6 linked regions of the Homo sapiens genome follow. The protein of the gene in region 4 purifies or fractionates together with the protein of the main gene of each other region. This does not show direct contact. Each region holds a gene or a part of one and is shown on either strand. Other genes may lie near its edges.

What was found.
Region 1: the proteins of PTCH2 (region 4) and LTAP1 purify together in Homo sapiens (affinity purification with mass spectrometry; one large-scale study listed by BioGRID and IntAct). This does not show direct contact.
Region 2: the proteins of PTCH2 (region 4) and PTPRS purify together in Homo sapiens (affinity purification with mass spectrometry; one large-scale study listed by BioGRID and IntAct). This does not show direct contact.
Region 3: the proteins of PTCH2 (region 4) and SQLE purify together in Homo sapiens (affinity purification with mass spectrometry; one large-scale study listed by BioGRID and IntAct). This does not show direct contact.
Region 5: the proteins of PTCH2 (region 4) and STAM2 purify together in Homo sapiens (affinity purification with mass spectrometry; one large-scale study listed by BioGRID and IntAct). This does not show direct contact.
Region 6: the proteins of PTCH2 (region 4) and SMO purify together in Homo sapiens (affinity purification with western blotting, with the first as the bait; one study listed by BioGRID). This does not show direct contact.

What each region holds. Positions count from the first base shown.
Region 1 is NC_000001.11:154,210,552-154,214,206, reverse strand, and holds part of LTAP1 (protein C1orf43), read left to right. Parts: intron 1-260; coding exon 261-314; intron 315-1,582; coding exon 1,583-1,749; intron 1,750-1,828; coding exon 1,829-1,887; coding exon of another isoform or gene 1,888-1,891; exon of another isoform or gene 1,892-2,746; intron 2,747-3,655. UniProt on the Homo sapiens protein: General regulator of phagocytosis. Required to uptake Gram negative bacterium by macrophages.
Region 2 is NC_000019.10:5,215,244-5,218,898, forward strand, and holds part of PTPRS (receptor-type tyrosine-protein phosphatase S isoform 1 precursor), read right to left. Parts: intron 3,556-3,655; coding exon 3,544-3,555; intron 3,290-3,543; coding exon 3,177-3,289; intron 1,525-3,176; coding exon 1,477-1,524; intron 353-1,476; coding exon 255-352; intron 170-254; coding exon 46-169; intron 1-45. UniProt on the Homo sapiens protein: Cell surface receptor that binds to glycosaminoglycans, including chondroitin sulfate proteoglycans and heparan sulfate proteoglycan.
Region 3 is NC_000008.11:125,001,430-125,005,084, reverse strand, and holds part of SQLE (squalene monooxygenase), read right to left. Parts: intron 1,910-3,655; coding exon 1,657-1,909; intron 1-1,656. UniProt on the Homo sapiens protein: Catalyzes the stereospecific oxidation of squalene to (S)-2,3-epoxysqualene, and is considered to be a rate-limiting enzyme in steroid biosynthesis.
Region 4 is NC_000001.11:44,823,757-44,826,319, forward strand, and holds part of PTCH2 (protein patched homolog 2), read right to left. Parts: coding exon 2,494-2,563; intron 1-2,493. UniProt on the Homo sapiens protein: Plays a role in the control of cellular growth. May have a role in epidermal development. May act as a receptor for Sonic hedgehog (SHH).
Region 5 is NC_000002.12:152,123,752-152,127,406, forward strand, and holds part of STAM2 (signal transducing adapter molecule 2), read right to left. Parts: intron 2,629-3,655; coding exon 2,475-2,628; intron 185-2,474; coding exon 15-184; intron 1-14.
Region 6 is NC_000007.14:129,195,019-129,198,673, reverse strand, and holds part of SMO (protein smoothened precursor), read right to left. Parts: intron 1-3,655. UniProt on the Homo sapiens protein: G protein-coupled receptor which associates with the patched protein (PTCH) to transduce hedgehog protein signaling. Binding of sonic hedgehog (SHH) to its receptor patched prevents inhibition of smoothened (SMO) by patched.

The sequences.
Region 1 (3,655 bases), about 110 Mb from region 4:
CCCCCTTGTTCAAGCAATTCTTCTACCTCAGCCTCCTGAGTAGCTGGGATTACAGGCATGCGCCACCACGCCTGGCTAATTTTGTGTTTTTACTAGAGACGGGGTTTCTCCATGTTGGTCAGGCTGGTCTCAAACTCCTGACCTCAGGTGATCCACCCACCTCAGCCTCCCAAAGTGTTGGGATTACAGGCATGAGCCACCACGCCCAGCCTGGGGAATATTTTTAGGGTTATGCCTAACACCAGTCTTTTCCTCAACAGGTTGCTACAACTATCTGTATAGGATGAAAGCTCTGGATGCCATTCGTACCTCTGGTAAGGGCTACCTGACAGGGTCCATTCTAGGATCCTGAAAGCCCACCTAGGGAACAGAGTAATGAACCCACTTTGTATGTTAGGATTTGTCCTTTCTGCACATCCCTGGCTAGTAGGAAATTCTAGAGTTTTGAAAGTACTAGATTAGAGATTTTGCTGAAGGAAATGATATAAGCAGGTTATTCTCCAAAGAGTCTGGGTGTTTTGTTTTTTAAAGTTCTTCTCTTGAGACCTTTAGTTTCATGAAGTAGATGATAGTAATTTGCTTGTTTTTCCACAAAGGACAGGTGGCACCTGCTTTTTCACTAAGCCCAAGATAGATTGTTCTTGAATTTTTTCCATTCTGTCAACACTTGTCATATATGCTTTATCTCTATGAAAACAGTTTATATCTTAAACCTAGGATGGATGAGTAAGCAGGATGGTAAAATGTGTGATGACACTATCATGTGTCATAGATGTAGCTTACAACTGTGGTGTTACCACCAAATGACCACTCAGGCACAGCTTTATACCTTTGGTCTCAATCAGAATCTCCCTCTAACTCAACTTGCTCATTTCATTAGACCTATTTCTTTTTATTTTTGAGACGGAGTCTTGCTCTGTTGCCCAGGCTGGAGTGCAGTAGCACGATCTTGGCTCACCACAACCTCCACCTCCTGGGTTCAAGCGGTTCTCCTGCCTCAGCCTCCCGAGTAGCTGGGATTACAGGTACCTACCACCATGCCTGGTTAATTTTTGTATTTTTAGTAGGGACAGGTTTTCACCATGTTGGCCAGGCTGGTCTCAAACTCCTGACCTCAGGTGATCTGCCTGCCCCGGCCTCCCAAATTGCTGTAATTACAGGCGTGAGCCACTGCGCCCAGCTTCATTAGACCTACTTCTAAGTTTGGGGAATTAACTAGAAAGACTAAAGAATGGGGCAGGCGCAGTGGCTCATGCCTGTAATCCCAACGCTTTGGGAGGGCGAGGCAGACAGATCACAGGAGGCCAGGAGTTCAAGACCAACCTAGCCAACAAGGTGAAACCCTTTTGTATTTTTGTCTCTACTAAAAATACAAAAATAAGCCTGGCATGGTGGTGCACATCTGTAATCCCAGCTAATCAGGAGGCTGAGACTAGAGAATTGCTCAAACCTAGGAGGTGGAGGTTGCAGTGAGCCAAGATCACTGCCACTGCACTCCAGCCCGGGTGACAGAGCGAGACTCCATCTCAAAAAAAAAGACTAAAGAATGAGAAGAGATATCATTGTGCTGTTTTCTCCACAGAGATCCCATTTCATTCTGAAGGCCGGCATCCCCGTTCCTTAATGGGCAAGAATTTCCGCTCCTACCTGCTGGATCTGCGAAACACTAGTACGCCTTTCAAGGGTGTACGCAAAGCACTCATTGATACCCTTTTGGATGGCTATGAAACAGCCCGCTATGGGACAGGGGTAAGCCAGTTTTTTCTTCGGGGCACTAAAGAGATCCCTCAGACTGAGAGATCCTCACTCTTCCTTTCTCTTTCCTAAGGTCTTTGGCCAGAATGAGTACCTACGCTATCAGGAGGCCCTGAGTGAGCTGGCCACTGCGTGAGTTTGGAGGGGAACGTGTCAGAGGGAGCTGGTACAGTAGTGTTGGACTGTTGCCACAGTGCAGTGACCTTCATAAAGCATATAAACAAAATCCATGATACCATAAGAGTTGTCAGGTTCTAGACTATTAGATCAGTCTCTTACATTAGAAAGCAGATGCGGCCGGGCACAGTGGTTCACGCCTATAATCCCAGCACTTTGGGAGGCCGAGGCGGGAGGATCATCTGAGGTTGGGAATCCGAGACCAGCCTGACCAACATGGAGAAACCCCGTTCTCTACTAAAAATACAAAATTAGCCGGGCGTGGTGGCGCATGCCTGTAATCCTAGCTTCTGGGGAGGCTGAGGCAGGAGAATCTCTTGAACCCGGGAGGCGGAGGTTGCGGTGAGCCAAGATCGTGCCATTATACTCCAGCCTGGGCAACAAAAGTGAAACTCTGTCTCAAAAAAAAAAAAGAAGAAAAGAAAGCAGATGCAACTATACAAGCTAGTAAAAGAAGTTTTTACTAGCATTTTTCTTGTGTGCATTTTTCTTGTCTTTTGTTTAGCCCAATAAAATGTCAAAATTGGTGTAGCCTAGCAAAGGGAATAGTTTTTCAGCACACACAGGGATTCCTTCTCTTCAGAGTCTCAGCGTCCCTTTTGTGTCTTGGCCCAATAAAAGTAAGAATTAAATAACATTGGGCCGGGCGCGGTGGCTCACGCCTGTAATCCCAGCACTTTGGGAGGCCGAGGCAGGCGAATCATGAGGTCAAGAGATCAAGACCATCCTAGCCAACAAGGTGAAACCCTGTCTCTACTAAAAATACAAAAATTAGCTGGGCATGGTGGTGCGTGCCTGTAATCTCAGCTACTCGGGTGGCTGAGGCAGGAGAATCGCTTGACCCCAGGAGGCAGAGGTTGCAGTGAGCTGAGATCACGCCACTGCACTCCAGCCTGGTGACAGAGCAAGACTCCATCTCAAAAAAAAAAAAAAAAAAAAAAAAAAAAAAAGAATTAAATAACATCTATTTTTGGCCGGGCGCGGTGGCTCACGCCTATAATCCCAGCACTTTGGGAGGCCGAGGAGGGTGGATCACAAGGTCAGGAGTTCAAGACCAGCCTGGCCAACATGGTGAAACCTCGTCTTTACTGAAAATACAAAAATTAGCTGGGCATGCTGGCGGGCTCCTGTAATACCAGCTACTCGGGAGGCTGAGGCAGAAATCACTTGAACCCGGGAGGTGGAGGTTGCAATGAGCCGATATCATGCCATTGCACTTCAGCTGGGGTGACAAGAGCATGACTGTCTCAAAAAAAAAATAAAAATTAAAAATTAAAAAAATCTATTTTTACTACCACTTAAAGTATTAGTAACCATGTCTGAAACAAAGGCCATCGCTATAGAGTCAGCTGTTGAGCATTTGTGTCACAGGAGAGGATTCATGGCTTTTGTTTGGGAATGTTTTTAATACACACTAAACATAGTCTCGTATTTTCATGCAAATGTTAAAATCAAAGTTCTTGGCGAGAAAGGAAAGCCAATCTAGAGTAAAAACTTAGGCCGGGCGCAGTGGCTCACACCTGTAATCCCAACACTGGGAGGCCGAGGCAGGTGGATCATCTAAGGTCAGGAGTTCAAGACCAGCTTAACCAACATGGTGAAACCCCATCTCTACAAAAATACAAAAATTAGCCGGGCATGATGATGTGCGCACCTGTAATGCCAGCCACTCAGGAAGGTGAGGCAGGAGAATCGCTTGAACCTGGGAGGTGGAGGTTGCAGT
Region 2 (3,655 bases), on a different chromosome or scaffold from region 4:
ATGCAGTGGGGAAGGGCAGGTTAAGACCCGGGATCTCCGAACTACCTTCAATGGGCTGGAGGATGACACGGGAGTGGTCATAGGCGATGACGTTGGCATAGCGGTTCTTCGGCTTGTTCACTTCCAGGTTGGAATGTTCCCATGTGAACTGCTGTCCAGGGTCGATGGACTACAGAGGAAGGGGAGAGCGCGGGTGTCAGGGTAGGTGCCTGTGAGGCCGAGGTGATGAGGGTGGGAGGCGGGGGTGGGCTCACCTCATACTCCTGGGAGAGCTTGAGGCTGTCGTTGGCCTTGAGCCGCTCCGTGTGCTCCGCCATGTCTGCGATGGGAATTGGCGGGTGGCTAAGCATGCCTACAGGGTGGAGCAGACCCCGCCGGGGTTGGTCACTTGGGGGGCCAGCCGGGGACTCGGGGGAGGGGGGTGATCTACGTGTGAGTCTGCGATGGGTGAGCTGTGGTTAGAAGGGCATGGCCGGGGTGGGGCTTGGCAGGAGGGGAAGACTCAGGGTGGCTCATGAAGGGGCTGGGACCCCAGGCCTAGGGGACTCTAAAGGCAGCAGGTTTGAGGCCCTCTGCTCCGTGCAGAGGCTGACACCCCTGGAGGGGCCTGGATCACAGCATTGGCCCATCCTGTTTCCTTCCAACCAAGCTGGGGGTGCAGGGGCTGGCAGAAGGGTCACCCCAGAGGATGTCAAGCTCCCAGTGCCTCGAGCCAAGAAGCAAGTGTGTGGCACAGAAATTAAATTGCAGACGCAGCCGGCTGTGCTTTGGAAATACTGTCCTTGGGTGGGCGACTGACACCCCTTTCTGTCCCTCTGGGATCAGAGGCACGAAATCCGCTTCCAGGTAGAGGCGACAGACTAGGGAGGGGAAACAGTATGTGTGTGTGTACGTGAGAGGAGTGAGGGGTCCCCATCTGTCCCTGCGCTTGCTTGGGGCAGGAGCAGGTGCAAGAAGGCCCTGGCCTGAGAGCTCTTATCCTTTCAAGCCCCCTAGGATGGCTGCCGAAGGTGCTGGGTGTGGGCTCGGTTCTCCCTTCCCGATATCTGGGTCTGCAGAACCCTGACCTCTCCTGGGACCTGTGTACCGGATGTTCAGCTCTCAGGTGGTTTCCAGACCAGCTGGTAACATTTAATGTTCTGAGACTTCCATGTGTCCCTAGCTGTCCTGGGTGCCCCCCAAGAGCTCACATCTAAGGGGCCTGCCTGTCCTGTGGGCACGTCCTGGGTACATACGTGCCTCACCCACATCCCTGACACACACATACACACCACACACACAGCAGTCACACACAGCCACCTGAGGGCCCAATGGACCAACCCCCTGCCCTCTTCCAGGAGCCAGCACAAGACAGGTGGGCAAAGGCCGGTGATGGGTGGGCGTGTGGACAGAGACAGGAGACACGATGGAGAAACCAAAGAGGAAATGAACGGGGGCGGGGGCGAAAGGAAGCCAAAAACAGACACAAGAACTAACTTTCAAAGTGAAACCCCGGCTCCCTGAGGGGGCTCCTGAGGCCTGAATCTGCAAACAGCAAACAATAAATAAATGAAAACATGCAGGGGGTAGGGGGGGGTCCCACCTCTGCCTCCCCCACCCCTCACTGGCTGGCGGATGCAAAGGGCAGAGCAACGCGGACAACGGGGGGTATGTACAGCCACCTGGGCCCCCACCTGAGGACTCACGATAGCTGCTAACTGTGTACCCCTCTGGCTGGACACCAGTCAATCCTGGTCTTGACCCGTCACTCTGGAAGGACTCCAAAGTGCTAGGTTCTTCTGTCTACAGATCCCCTCCCCCAGACCAGCCTGGCCTTGGGTCCCCTCTGTTGAGGTCAGCAGAGGGCATTCTGAGGAAGGAGGATGCAGGATGGTGAAGGAGAAGCTGGGGGAGCAGGGAAAGGACATATGGGCCCATGCCATGAGCTTCAAGGAGGACAGCAACCATCAGTTAAATGCACATGTTGAAAATCCTTATTTGGATGGAAACACAACAGACATCAGCTAGTCCAGAGACAGAAATGAGATGGGAGCACATTAGCGGTGAATTGTGAGACTCTGCATGATCCCTTCAGGAGACTGCAGCCGTCAGTTACATGCACATTTAAAATTCTCATTTGGCTGAAAAACCAAAGCAACACGAATCAGTACAGAGGAAAGAAAGGGAAGAGAATACACGAGGGGTGATACATGAGGCCCTGCATGATCCCTTTATGAGGACAGCAGCCATCAGTTAAATACTAATGGTCAAACTCCTCATTTGGATGAAAACAGAAGTGACACAAGCCAGTCCAGAGACAAAAAAAAAGAAAGTACATCAGGAATGGCATGTGAGGCTATGCATGAGGCTTTAAGGAGGACTAAAGACATCAGTGAAATACAAATGTTTAAAATCTTCATTTGGTTGGAAAATAGAGTTGATATGAACCAGTTCAGAGATACGAAGTGGAGACCGGGTACAGTTGGAAGGACAGATGTAACTTGGCTGTGAACCCATAAGGAGAATAGCAGCCATCAGTAAAATGAAAAATTCCTTATTTGGTTAGAAGCAGCTGGCATGAGCCCATGAAGAGGGAGGAGATGGTAGAGTTTGTGAATCATACATGAAAATGATCAAGGATAAGGCCTTGATTCAGTTCTCCTGGACTGTCAGGTGACTTTAATCTACAGGGAACTATAAAGAGGCATGAACCCTGGCAGCCATGGTGGGAAGAGGTACAGGGCATTGGGCAGGTATAATTTCTGTACCTTGCTAGGGATATATCCCAAGGGAGTGTGGAAAATGGCTGAGGGCAAACCTCAACTCCCACCACCGAGGAACATTAAAACCAGAGACATAAACAGAAGAATAGCTCTTTCTGCCCAAAGAAATGAGGGGTTTATTTGTGTTTTCTCCATTTTTTAAACATCGTCTTTAGGCTCCTGAAGAGGACAGCAGCCATTGGTTAAATGTTAACTTTAAAAAAAAAAAAGCCTCACTTGGTTGTAAGCAGAACCAACCTATGAGTTCCAAGCCCAGATCCATGTAGGGTTGGAGGTATTTGGGAATCCAGAATGTGGCTGCACCAAGCATAGTTCAGAGGGGGCCAATGAGGGGCCCCCAGGGTGGCAGCTACTGCTTCTCCCCAGCTATCTCCCCTGTTGGTGGCATCCCTGGTACCAGGGATAAGTACATACCTGGAGTCTGGAAGTTAATGCGTCTCATTTCCACAGGGTCCTTGGGGTGGTGAGGGGCGAGGTCGGCATTGTTCAGGAGGCATTTGGTGCGGGGTTCTGAGTCCTTGCGTTTACTTTAGGAGAAGCAAGCGGAACAGTCCAGTTAGTAGTGGCACATGTTCATGTGTGAACACAATTCAGGCCCCAGGAATGCATGGTAAGAAAAGGACCATGGACCCGTATGACTAGGGTTTCCAGGACCAAGTACAGCTACGTGTACAAGCTGTGGGGGCAGCCGGGCATCCCCTCTCCTGTGGGCACACTATCAGCCCATTCCCTGTCCTCTTCCTCTTGCCTGAAGCCTCCACGGGGGAGGGCTGGTTCTTACCTGTCGGGTTTGCTGTTCCCGAAAGCAGACACAGGTGAGAAGGGGGAAAAAAAGAAGAAAGGTGAGGGTGTGCCGGCCATCAAGGGCTTGTTCTGTGACTCTCAGTGCCTTC
Region 3 (3,655 bases), on a different chromosome or scaffold from region 4:
TATAATGACTGAATATATGAAAAAGTAGATTTTCCAAACCAAATGGAAAGGGTAGAGTTATCCCCCAACTGTTGATGATTACATACTATCCATTAAAAGTGACTCAGGACAAACTGCAAAGAACTTTTTAGTACATCAAATAATTTAAATGGCAGCAAACAAAACACTGAATTCATCAGAATCATGTAAAAACTTCTTTCTTAAATCTAAAGCAGCAAAAGCAGTTGAAAAATAAAAAACTTTCAATAGAAAATATCACATTTTTAAAGTGCCAACCGAAAATTAGAAAGTTAAAAAATTAATTTTAAAAATAAAAACTAAAACAATACTTTGGGAAAGACATATGAAATAGAACAAAAGATTAATACATGTATATATAATAAAATTTACTCATTAAAAACCACTGGAAAAATATTAAGACGCCAATAGTAATGGACAAAAACATGTATGGATGATTCATATAAAGCAATATAGAAACAGTGAACAAATCAGAAAAAATGTTCAAACGATAAAAAAAATTAAGTAAAAATTGAAACAACAGGACACCATCAAAATCACTGATGAGATTATGATAAAACTGATAAATTCATATACTACTGGTGATACTATGAACTAATATTATATTTTAGAAAATATAACAATAATTATCAAGAACCATGAAGAAATTAGCATCCTTCGATGTAATAATCTTACTCTTGGAAATCCATGTAAGAAATTCATCCTAAAGACATAATATTTAATAATCTTTAAAGTTACATGCAAGAATAGGTTCACTATAGTGTTACCTAAAAAAGGATAACTGAAAATAACCTAAACATTCATCTAAGTTTGAAAAGTGAAGTACATTATGAAGTCAACTGAAAAACAACTATGCTTGGGCTTAAAAAGATACTGATAAAGAATGGTTAACAGTATTGGAAATATGTTTCTGTCAAGTGAAAAAGTGGACTCTAGTATATATATTAGTGACATAAAATGTTCAAATATGGTATTGACTGGATGTCTGTGTCCTCCCAAAATTCCTAAGCTAAAACTCTAATCCCCAATGTGATGATATTTGGAGATGGAGCCTTTAGAAGGTGATTAGGTCATGAGGGTAGACTCTCACGATAGGATTAGTGCCCTTGGAAAAAAAGACAGGGGAGGGCTTGCTTCTTTGTGTCTCTCCCACCTTCCCCACCCCACCCCACCCCACCACCCCATCCCCACACAAAGTAGACAGTGCATAAATATTTCCTAAATGAATAGCCAGTGCTTAAAAAGCACTGGTTGAATGGATGAATGGTGCTTAAATAAAAGATTCTAAGTAATAACACTGTAACAAGTATACAACATACCCTCTACAAATGACAGTTCCCTTCGCCTTTCACAAAATTTAATGCCCTCATTCTAGGATTTTCCAGTCCTTAATTTTGACCATTACAATCTTTTGGCCATTTTATTATATCTCATTAAGTCTAATTCACATCTAATCATACTATTAAATGCTTATTTTATCCTTTGCTCTCACTTTCATGCAAATTTGTTGGTAAATGAGTATAGAAAATTTTATAAATGAAAATAAAATGGAATACCTTCTTACTGGTCATAGGATGGTCTAAGTGAAGAGTGCTTGTTCATACCACGTAACTCTCCTGAAAATCAATATGAACCTACCTCCAAGACCAAGGTCTTTGAGAACATGATAACCACCCGGCTGCAGGAATTCTCCAACTATTCTGTCAGGCTCTTTTAAGTCTCTCTCAATGACTGTCACCTTTCTTCCATCTCTGGAAAGCACAGCTGCCAAAGCAGAGCCAAGCACGCCAGCTCCCACGATGATAACTTCTGGGTCATTCTGAGAAGATGTTGATGTACAGGCAGCTGTTCCTATTAAGCTTGTTTCTGAAATATTGGTTCCTTTTCTGCGCTGTTTAAAAAAAAAAAGGTAAACTAGGTATCCAAATTTGTTAGATTCAAATCATGCTACCGCTATGTGGACACACTGGACTTTTGCATCCTAGGCTAAAGCTAGATACTAAATATTATCAAACCAAACAAATTGTTACATTTTAAAATCTAGATAATATATAAAAATCAATGATATCAAAATATTCGTTAAATAAAAGTGTGTCATATTATCCCAATAAAATTAAATATTTATTGTTTTCTAAACATGATATTTGGAAAATGTTATACAGACATATTTAGAAATCCACACTGGGCCGAATATAATAAATGTTTATAAGGGGCTTCAAAGACTTATTATAGGGCAAACTGTATCATTAATAACTAAATTCTTCAAATATATCCTGGGAATCGACAAGATGCAAATCACTTACAACTTCTGATTTGAGTTCATGTTACAAACTATTCGGCACCTTTTAGACATTTTCTTTTTTTTGTTTGTTTTTTTGTTTGTTTGTTTGAGACTGAGTTTCACTCTTGTTGCCCAGGCTGGAGTGCAATGGCGCAATCTCGGATCACTGCAACGTCCGCCTCCTGGATTCAAGCAATTCTCTGGCCTCAGCCTCCCGAGTGGCTGGGATTATAGGCATGTGCAACCATGCCCGGCTAATTTTGTATTTTTAGTAGAGACTGGGCTTCTCCATGTTGGTCAGGCTGGTCTTGAACTCCCGACCTCAGGTGATCCTCCTGCCTCAGCCTCCCAAAGTGCTGGGATTACAGGCGTGAGCCACTGCGTGCGGCCTTAGATATTTTCATTATTCATCTTTATTTTCTCTTTCTGGATTTTCATTTGAAAAATCTATGTTAATTTAATATCACTTTTATATGACAAAAGGATTGTCAAATCCTGCCTACCAATCTATTAATTGAAGATTATCTAAATAAACAAAATTACAAGAGAAGAAATAACTCATACCGACTCTTAGATTTGACTTGTTTACAATTTTGGTCCTTAACATATAAGCACATATTTAATTTATCCCTCCTTTTTCCCCATCCTGATACTCTAAGAGATCCTAGTCAAAGAGGTGGTCCCCAAAAAAGGAACAAGGAAAAACATTAAACCTGTCACTGGCTGAACTGACAGCAAAACTTTAACTTTGATCATAAAAAGATGCAAAGTCTTGTTTTGAGAGATTTATGACCACTAAGAACAACAGTGCACAGTGGCTTTTTAAAATGAACAATTCAATTTTGTAGTATTTCTTCTTGGTAGATGGATTCACACATTTGAATACATTTCAGATACAGAATTGCAAGGAACCACCTTCCTTGAGTTCTTTGACCTTAATGATTAAGATAAGACTAAATGCCATTTGAAGGGGTTTTTAAAAAATAATCAAGCAAAAAGGAAGACGAAGCCTAAAATCCTTTAGAACTTTACTCTGTGATTCTAATATCCACCCAGCATTCTTTTACCTCTATAGTGGACTGGGAATTTGTCTATTCTTTTTTTTTTTTTAATTTCTCTCAGAAAAATACTTTTCTGTCCTTTTACTATGGGAAGATCTCAATATTCTACTCTTCCCATTAGTATGTCTTAATGGCCAGAACTGACTATATTTAAATTACTGTAGGGGGCAAGACAAGCCCCTTTTGTCATCTTAACCAAAAATGTGCTTCTTCATAAGTTTTTCCTGTTTTATATACACACACACACACACACACACACACACACACACACACACCCTGAAAGGAGAGCTCTGGA
Region 4 (2,563 bases):
GGCAAAACCCTGTCTCTATAACAAATACAAAAATTAGCTGGGTGTGGTTGTGTGTGCCTGTAGTCTCAGCTACTTGGGAGGCTGAGGTGGGAGGATCGCTTGGCCCAGGAGGTGGAGGTTGCAGTGAACCGAGATTGCACTGCTACACTCCAGCCTGGGCGACAGAGTGAGACCCTGTTTCAAACAAACAAACAAACAAACAAACAAACATAGGTTGGGCAAACTACAGCCTGTCACTTGTTTTGTAAATGAAATTTTGTTGAAACAGCCATACCCATTGGTTAATGTATTGTCTAGACAATTTTGTGCTTTGATGGCAGAGTTGCAGCAGAGACTCTATGGCCTACCAAGCCTGAAATAGTTATTATTTGGTCCTATAAATAGAAGAAGTTGGCCAACCACTAGTCCATCTAGAAGAGGGACATCAAAGTGATAACAGTTACTTCTCAGAGTAGCGTTTCAGAGGATTTCTAATTCTTCTTTTGTACCTTTCTGCATGCTGGCTTTGTTTGTTTTCAAGGATCATATATTGTTTTTATAATCAGAATAATAATAGAGATATTTGGTGGGGGGAAAGGAAGGGAGCTGTTTGTGGAGTCTGGCTGGTCTGTGGGTCCCCCCTTTCCTCTGCCAGAGAATATGCAGCCCTGGGCGAGGCCCTCCTTGGTTCTGGCATCTCTGTATCTCTGGTATCTTTGTAGAACCCCTCCATTAAGCCCACATTGCCATCCCGCTACCATCCCATTTTTTTTTTTTTTTGAGACAGGATCTTACTGTGTTGCCCAGGCTGCAGTGCAGTGGTGTAATCATGGCTCACTGCAGCCTCAAACTCTGAGGTTCAAGTGATCCTCCCGCCTCAACCTCCTGAGTGGCTGAGACTACAGGCACGCACCACCATGCCCAGCTAATTATTTAAAAAAAATTTTTTTTCTTTGAGACGGAGTCTTGCTCTGTTGCCCAGGTTGGAGTGCAGTGGCGCAATCTTGGCTTACTGCAGCCTCTGCCTCCCAGGTTCAAGCAATTCTCCTGCCTCAGCATCCTGAGTAGCTGGGATTACAGGCACCTGCCACTACGCCTGGCTAATTTTTGTATTTTTATTAGAGACGGGGTTTCACCATGTTGCCCAGGCTGGTCTTGAACTCCTGGCTCAAGCAATCCACCAGCTTTAGCCTCCCAAAGTGCTGGGATTACAGGTGTGAGTCACCATGCCTGGCCCATCCCACAATGGTTCACAGTAAAACCATTCAAAAGAATCATTGATTCCCATTTTCTCATCTTCCATTCTGTCTTTAACACATTCCAGACAGGATCTTGTCTACTCCTCTCTACTGAAATGGCTGCTTATTTATTTGTCTACTTATTTACTGTCTATCTCTCTCTTCTTTTTTTTCTTTTTTTGAGATGGAGTTTTGCTCGGTCTCCCAGGCTGGAGTGCAGTGGCATGGTCTCGGCTCATGGCAACCTCCACCCTCCCGGGTTCAAGTGATTCTCCTGCCTCAGCCTTCCAAGTAGCTGGGATTACAGGCATGCACCCCCACACCCAGCTAATTTTCATATTTTTAGTAGAGATGGGGTTTCACCATGTCGGCCAGGCTGGTCTTGAACTCCTGACCTCAAGTGATGTGCCCACCTCGGCTTCCCAAAGTGCTGGGATTACAGGCGTAAGCCACCTCACCCAGCCCTTATTGTCTATCTCTATCCCTAGAATATAAGTTCCTTGGAGGTAAAAAACTGTATTGCTATTATATCCCGTATTCTTTTTTATTTTTATTTTCCAAATTCTTTTTTGAGATTGAATCTTGCTCTTTTGCCCAGGCTGGAGTACAGTGATGTGATCTCAGCTCACTGTAACCTCCGCCTCCTGGGTTCAAGTAATTCTCCTGCCTCAGCCTCCTGAGTAGCTGGGATTACAGGCATGAGCCACCACGCCCAGCTAATTTTTGTATTTTCAGTAGAGACGGGGTTTTGCAATGTTGGCCAGGCTGGTCTTGAACTCCTGACTTCAGGGGATCCGCCTGCCTTGGCCTCCCAAAATGCCCCAGCATCATCCCAATTACAGGCATGAGCCACTGTGCCCAGCCCAAATTCTTTTTTTTTTTTTTTTTTGAGACGGAGAGTTTCACTCTTGTTGCCCAGGCTGGAGTGCAATGGCACGATCTCAGCTCACTGCAACCTTCGCCTCCCAGGTTCAAGCAATTCTGCCTCAGCCTCCAAAGTAGCTGGGATTACTGGCATGTGCCACCACGCCTGGCTAATTTTTTGTATTTTTAGTAAAGACAGGGTTTCACCATGTTGGCCAGGCTGGTTTCGAACTCCTGACCTCAGGTGATCCACCTGCCTCGGCCTCCCAAAGTGCTGGGATTACAGGAATGAGCTACCACGTCCACCCAGCCCAAATTCTTAAATAGTACCTAGCACATAGTAGGGGCTTGAACAATATGTGTTGAATACTGAATCAGCTGATTGGTCCCTCCCCGGGGTGCCCGTGCTCACCAGAGCCACGTGGACTGTGAACTCAACGCCAATGCCTACAGAGGCCACAAGGATCACCACGGGGATGGCA
Region 5 (3,655 bases), on a different chromosome or scaffold from region 4:
CTCCCAAAACTTACCTTAAATATGAAGTTTGAGCAGGCTGTGCTGTCACTGAGGAATTCACATTTGGAGGCAGAGATCTCAGTGGACCAATTTGATCGGGTCCTAGGCTATAGCTTTGGGCAACAGTTACTTGGTGAATGCTCTGACCCATATAGTTTCCACCATGTGATTGAACTGGATATGTCTATTAATCAGAAAGAAAAAGTTGATTCACTCATCTCCCAAACATGTGCCTAATAATATATTTAAAATGTTAAAAGACTTAAAGGAAAGAAACTATACTTCTTTGGGAAGCAATCTGATTCTACCAATCTATCCATCTTAGAACTAAAAGTGGAGAGCTGTCAAATCACAGTGCCAAATCTATGGAAATTTGATTTGTTTGGCTGTTCTTTTATTTTTACAGAGAGCTGGGAGAAAGACAGGTGGTGTACTTTTAAGTAGTGGATTGCAATCTATCCAGGTTGCCTATTACTCAGTAAAGATGTCTTGCTGTAGAGCCACAGAAAACTATACACTCCCTTGAAGGGAAGCCCACCATCACTTAAAGTCACTATAAGAATGATAACCTTCTTTACCCTCATCCCTGGATGACTCATCCAACTCCTTCCTAAGAAAGAAACTTGAGAGAAAAAGCTGAAAAAGAAATGGTATAAGGGTGCCAGGGCTTCCCTGGCAATGTCTACCTTATTCTCTACCTTTAAGACAAACAGGACAAAAGTAAAGAAGAGTTATGGGCAAAAGACATGTATCCTCAGGAAACAGCAAAAATGGTTTAGGTCTCTTTGGACATTTATATGTGCCCTACTTATTTTCAGGACAACAGCTCCTTAAGGACAGGGTCTACCACCTGTCTACTAAATATAGCATCAAAACAATGCATACATTTAATATCATATCATACCATAATGATCATCAATCCAGTTTTAAATTAAGCTATTTTTAAAGTAAATACCATTCATCTGAAAATTTAGAATGCTAGAAATGCCAAATAAGCTATATTAAGTACAATCACATTACCTCCTTAGTAGACATGTAACAATCTACTGACAATAGGCTGAGACTGTGAGAATCAGCGTCTTCTGCAGTTTAGGGTTCCTGAGTAGCCTACACAATATAACTAATGTGTTACCCCAACTGCTTCTAGTAGAGATATATTTTTGTCAAATTAGAATAGAAACTTTTGAATATTTCAAATGCTCTTGAGTGAACAGTGTAGGTACAGATTACGTGAGGAATCAAACAGAAAGTTAACTTTTTAGAGACATGAGTTGTGCTTGGCAAAACGCAGTAAGTAGAATGCAACTAAACACCAAAACCTGACACAGAATGGCAAATAACCCTTTACAGACACACAAAAAAGCAAACATAAAGTTTTATCATACAATGATGCAGACACTGCTGTTTTGTTCCACTTTCACAGCAGCAGCGAACAACTCTGAAAACAGAAGCAAACTGAATAAATCCCAAAGGTCTTTTGCAGCCAGAAAAATCTTTCCTACCCTCCTAATTTTCAAAAAGATCAAGGCATGGCATATTTGATAAATGTATCTTGTCTGACGTGACAGTTACCATAGTGACTATTCTTTTTTTACTTAACAATTATGTTGTGTCAAGTCATCTAAATTATGCACCCACATTCTACCCTTTCTCCTTGGTGTCTCCTTCACATGCACCTTTACATACCAGTTTTCATAAATTAACATGAATTTTGCTCATCCAAGCTCATTCTGAATTCAATTGGCTAATTGGCTGAAATTTCAAAAAACGCTTCCGAATGGGGATACTGACAAATGTAAGTATTCGCTTCACATGGCAAGCACACAAAAAAGGTGAAAAGTACTGGAAAAAGATGGCTTATGGATGTTCATGGATGGCTTACGGAGTCTGTACCTCCTAGACATGTATCATATCTTTGCTATGCACAGATTTTTAACAATGTAAGTCATGCAGCTAAGTAAAGGAAGTATAAAGCATACTCTAGAAGTTCATTGTGCCTGTTAATAATCATGTAAGTCAAATAAATCTTTATGGAAATTTGTAAAGAAATGTTAAATCTTGTTGAGCAGCAGGAAAGCGTTAGTACCTCACCTGGGGAACTTCTGATATGTCAGGTATTGTCCTAAATCAAAAGATTTATACTCCATATTTACAAAAAGGATTTATGTTTACATAAAAGATTTATGCTTTATACTTACAAAAGCATATGAAGAACCAGAACTACCCTCACATATTTAATGGTCTTTTCATCCATGTTAAAACTGAACTAAAATGTATTTGTGAAATATCAGTATCTGTCTAATTTGCTCTGGTGAATGTTAATTGTTTAGCCAATATTTACTGAAACAATCAAAGATAAATTTTATAATTTTATTCACAGACAAAAGAAATCTTAATACTATGCTATAAAACATTTTCTTTTACTTTTAAAAGTTGTTTATAATTTAGAAAATGTTCTCAAAAAACATGCTCACCTGCATTGGAACCCCAGATGATGCAGGTGGGTAATGTGCTGGAGGGTGGAGCTTTGAATAGACTGAGTACACTGGTGCTTCATTCACCAATTTGTTATATAGTTCCAGAGCTTCCAGGACTTTAACATTCAATTCAGACAATTCTGAATGCTTCCTGATGTAGAAGAAAAGTATTATAATACTCTTCTAGTTTTTAGCATGTATTTAGTAATATAAATTATTTTTTTAATTTAGCACAATTTCTATTAATATATTAAAAGGCTTTTTTATATTTAATGAAAGAATATTCACAAAGGGAAACTAAGAGGAAGAACTGCTTAATCCTTGTAATAGCTAGGCTGATATTGAGGCAGGAGAATAGGGTCTGGAGGCAGGGAATCTAAGGCTGATTTTCAAGCTGACTTCTTATAACTAAATTGAAAGGAAAACCAACCCTAACTTTCCACACCTAAGTAACAAAAGGACCAGAGGCTACTTCCTTTGCAAACCCCCCACGTTTTCTGTGCAGCAGATGGGAAATTGGGTGTCCGAAAAAAATCAGACTGATTACAGGTCCAGTCTCCATTTGCAACTTTGTAACTTCAGCCTCTGAATGGTTGCTGTCCACAACCAATCAGACTGACTGTGGGCGGAGTCTTCATTTGCAAAGAAATATAACTTTGTAACTTCACCCTAGCCTCTGATTGGTTGCTTTTTGCAACCAATCAGATGTTTGCACAGCAGTGTTACCTTTGTAACTTCATTTCAGCCTCTGGTTGGCTGCTTTCTGCAACCAATCAGACTGATTGTGAGCTTCCACTTCATTTACATGAGGTGAGCACGAAAAGGCCAATGGGAAACTTCTAGGGGGTACTTGGACCCAAGAAGATTCTGTATCCTGGCCCTTGAGCTGCTGCTCAGGCCCACTCCCACACTGTGGGGTGTACTTTCATTTTCAATAAAACCCTGCTTTTGTTCTTTTGTTGCTTCCATCTTTCTTTGCTTTGCTGGGCATTTTGTCCAATTCTTTGTTCAAAATGCTAAGAACATGGACAACTTGCAGTCACAATCCTCTACTGGTGACAATATGACTTTATAATATTAGGGAAAAGTCCTTCCACACCTCATAAAATGCAATCAATTCATAATTTCGGTGCTGAGAGAATTTACTTTCACACATTCTAGGTTTTTTGTTGAGAATT
Region 6 (3,655 bases), on a different chromosome or scaffold from region 4:
AGTATCAGTGTATCTAAACATATCTAAACATTGAAAGGCTACAGTAAAAATGTGGTATTATAATCTTAAGGGAACACCATCACATGTGGTCCATTGTTAACCAAAATCTCCTTCTGGGGTGCATGACAGGATGTGCATTGAAATGGAATGATGTCCAATGTTGTCATGTTACATGGACTCAGTTGAGTGGAGAGCAGTCTATAGAGCATGGTACTGGTTGGGCGGTAGAGGAGAGACTGAGAGCACATCTACATCTGGACAGATGTTGGATATTTCCAAAAGGACACAAAAACCAGTGTTGGTGGTTACTTCTGCAGAGGAAAAATGGGTAGCTAGATGCAGAAGTAGGACTTAACTTGTTCCTTTTGAATTCTGTGCCATGTACATGTATAACCTATTTTTTAAAAGTAATTAAGCTTAAGGCTGGACATGGTGGCTCACGCCTATAATCCTAGCATTTTGGGAGGCCCAAGGTGGGTGGATCACTTAAGTTCAGGAGTTCGAGACCAACCTGGGCAATATGGCCAAACCCCATCTCTACAAAAAAACAAAAACAAAAACAAAAACAAAACTTGAGCTTAAAAACAAAATAAAGAAATACACAAATTACTAGGATGGGGAAGCTTTCCAAAGAGAAAAGAAGGATATGAAACTGAAACGAGAAAGAGAGGGGATATCAGCTTTATCAGTATTATTTTACTTCTTTTATTTTAATAAAATATGAAACAAAAAGAGAAACAGGAATACGGGTGTTACCGCGCCTGGCTGATCTAGACTTTTAAAAAGACTTTTTATTTGTGTGATTCTGATGACTAGTCAAGTTGAGTATCACTGTTCTAAGGCTGGTTTAATATTAGAAAATTCAATCAATGCAATTTACTACATTAACAGGTTAAAGGAGAAAAAAATCATATGATCATCTCAATGGATGCAAAAAAAAGTTGATAAAATTCAGCCGGGCGCAGTGGCTCACACCTGTAATCCTAGCACTTTGGGAGGCTGAGGCGGGCGGATCACACGGTCAGGAAATTGACCTGGCTAACACGGTGAAACCCCGTCTCTACTAAAAATACAAAAAATTAGCCGGGCGTGGTGGCATGCGCCTGTAGTCCCAGATACTTGGGAGGCTGAGGCAGGAGAATCGCTTGAACCCAGGAGGCAGAGGTTGCAGTGAGCTGAGATCGCATCACTGCACTCCAGCCTCGGTGACAGTGACACTTCGTCTCCAAAAAAAAAAGTTGATAAAATTCAACATCCATCTATGATCAAAAGAATAATTGGCAAATTTGAAATAAGAGACAACGTTCTTAATCTGATAAAATGTAATTAACTATAAAAAACCTATACCAAACATCAAATTTAATGGTGAAGGGTAGAAAAAGCTTTCTTTTTAGAATCCAGAAAAGTCAAGAATTAAGATGTTTTGTCTATTTAACAATGTACTGGAAGCCTTCAGTAAAGCAATAAGGATAAATAAAAGGTATAAGACTTGGAAAGAAAGAAACAAAACTCATTACTCACAAATTATATGACTATGTGTATAGAATAAATTTAGCAAGTTTACTGAATTCACAATCAATTTTATTTCTATATATCAGCAACAAAGTGAAATAAATGTTAAAGGCATCAATTTTATTTCTTTTTTTTTTTTTTTTTTGAGACGGTGTCTCACTGTATTGCCCAGGCTGGAGTGCAGTGGCACAATCTGGGCTCATTGCAAGCTCCGCCTCCCAGGTTCACGCCATTCTCCTGCCTCAGCCTCCTGAGTAGCTGGGACTACAGGCGCCCGCCACCATGCCCGACTAACTTTTTGTATTTTTAGTAGAGATGGAGTTTCACCATGTTAGCCAGGACGGTCTCAATCTCCTGACCTCGTGATCCCCCTGCCTTGGCCTCCCGAAGTGCTGGGATTACAGGTGTGAGCCACCGTGCCCAGCCAGTTTTATTTCTATATGTCAGCAACAAACAAAGTGAAATAAATGTTAAAGGCATCATTTACAACAGCATCAAAAATATCAAGTACCTAGGAATGTCTAACAAATAATAAGTATTTAAATCTGTGCAGAATATTGAGAAAATGAAAGATCTAAATAGAAATATATAAATGTTCAATGTTTGGAAGACTCAGTATTGTAAAGATGTCTCTTTTTTTTTCCAAGTTAATCTATATAGTCAATGCAATCCCAATAAAAAATCACCAAGTATTTTTATATTAAAACACAAAGGAGCATTTTGGGAGGCCAAGGCAGGAGGATCACTTGAGCCCAGGAGTTCAAGACCAGCCGGGACAATAGGGTCAAACCCTGTCTCTATTAAAACACACACACACACACACACACACACACAATCAAGAATAGCTCAGACTCTCTACTAGATAGTGATATTCTGTAAGTAACATTCTTACCCTATGGTTCACAAAGGATTCTTGGAAAAATTCAGAGGTCCATGAATTTCAATGGGAAAAAAATTACACCTAACTAAAATTTGGCCCTTCCTCCAATTATGAATGTAAGCAACACATCGCAGTACATAATTTTTTTTTGTTTTTTTTTTCTTTTCTTTTTTTTTTTTTTGAGAGGGAGTCTCACTCTGTCACCCAGGCTGGAGTGCAGTGGCACGATCTCGGCTCACTGCAAGCTCCGCCTCCTGGGTTCACACCATTTTCCTGCCTCAGCCTCCCGAGTAGCTGGGACTACAGGCGCCCACCACCGCGCCCGGCTAATTTTTTGTATTTTTAGTAGAGATGGGGTTTCACCGTGTTAGCCAGGATGGTCTCGACTTCCTGACCTCGTGATCTGCCCACCTTGACCTCCCAAAGTGCTGGGATTACAGGTGTGAGCCACCACGCCTGGCCCACAGTACATAATGTTAATAGTACCTGTGGCGTTGTCACAAGTGGAAACCAGATATTTTTGTTGCAGATATCTTGAAATAATGTCAATGCTTATAATCACTTTGATATTATAGTTGTTATTACACCTGCACCAGATCTTATTTATTGTATAAATAAATAAGCCCACATACTTGCATTTTTATATTTGATAACTATTATGTCAATATAATTGATTTCCTTTGTAATCCTATAAACTCATATCTAGCATATATAAAGAACTCCTACAAATCTTACAAAAATGACAGATAGCCCCTATGGAAAAATATGTCAAAGATTTGAACAGACACTTCCCAAAAGCAGAAACCCTAAAGGCCAGTAAGCATTTAAAAAGGCATTTAACTTTACTAGTAATCAGGGAAGTGCAAATTAAAACCACAAATATATGCCACAATATAGCCACTAGATTGGCAAAAATGTAAAAGGCTGATAATACCAAATGTTGGGAATCATGTGAACCAGTGTTGACTTTCTACTAGCTAGTGGGAGTATAAGTTAGTACAACCACTTTGAAAAATGGTTTGGCAAAAGCCTAAAGTATGCGTGCCTTATTATCTAGCAATTCTACTTCTTCAGCATATACCTGAAGGAACTTGTGCCAGTTGTACTAGGATATACATAAAAGACTACTCACAGCAATGTTATTTGCAATGGGCAAAAACTTGAGATGACAATAAAATGGGTAAACAACTGGGGGTATACTCATATAATGGAATATTATTCAGCAATGAAGAAATAAGCTGCAGTATGAGGCGGGTGGCTCAC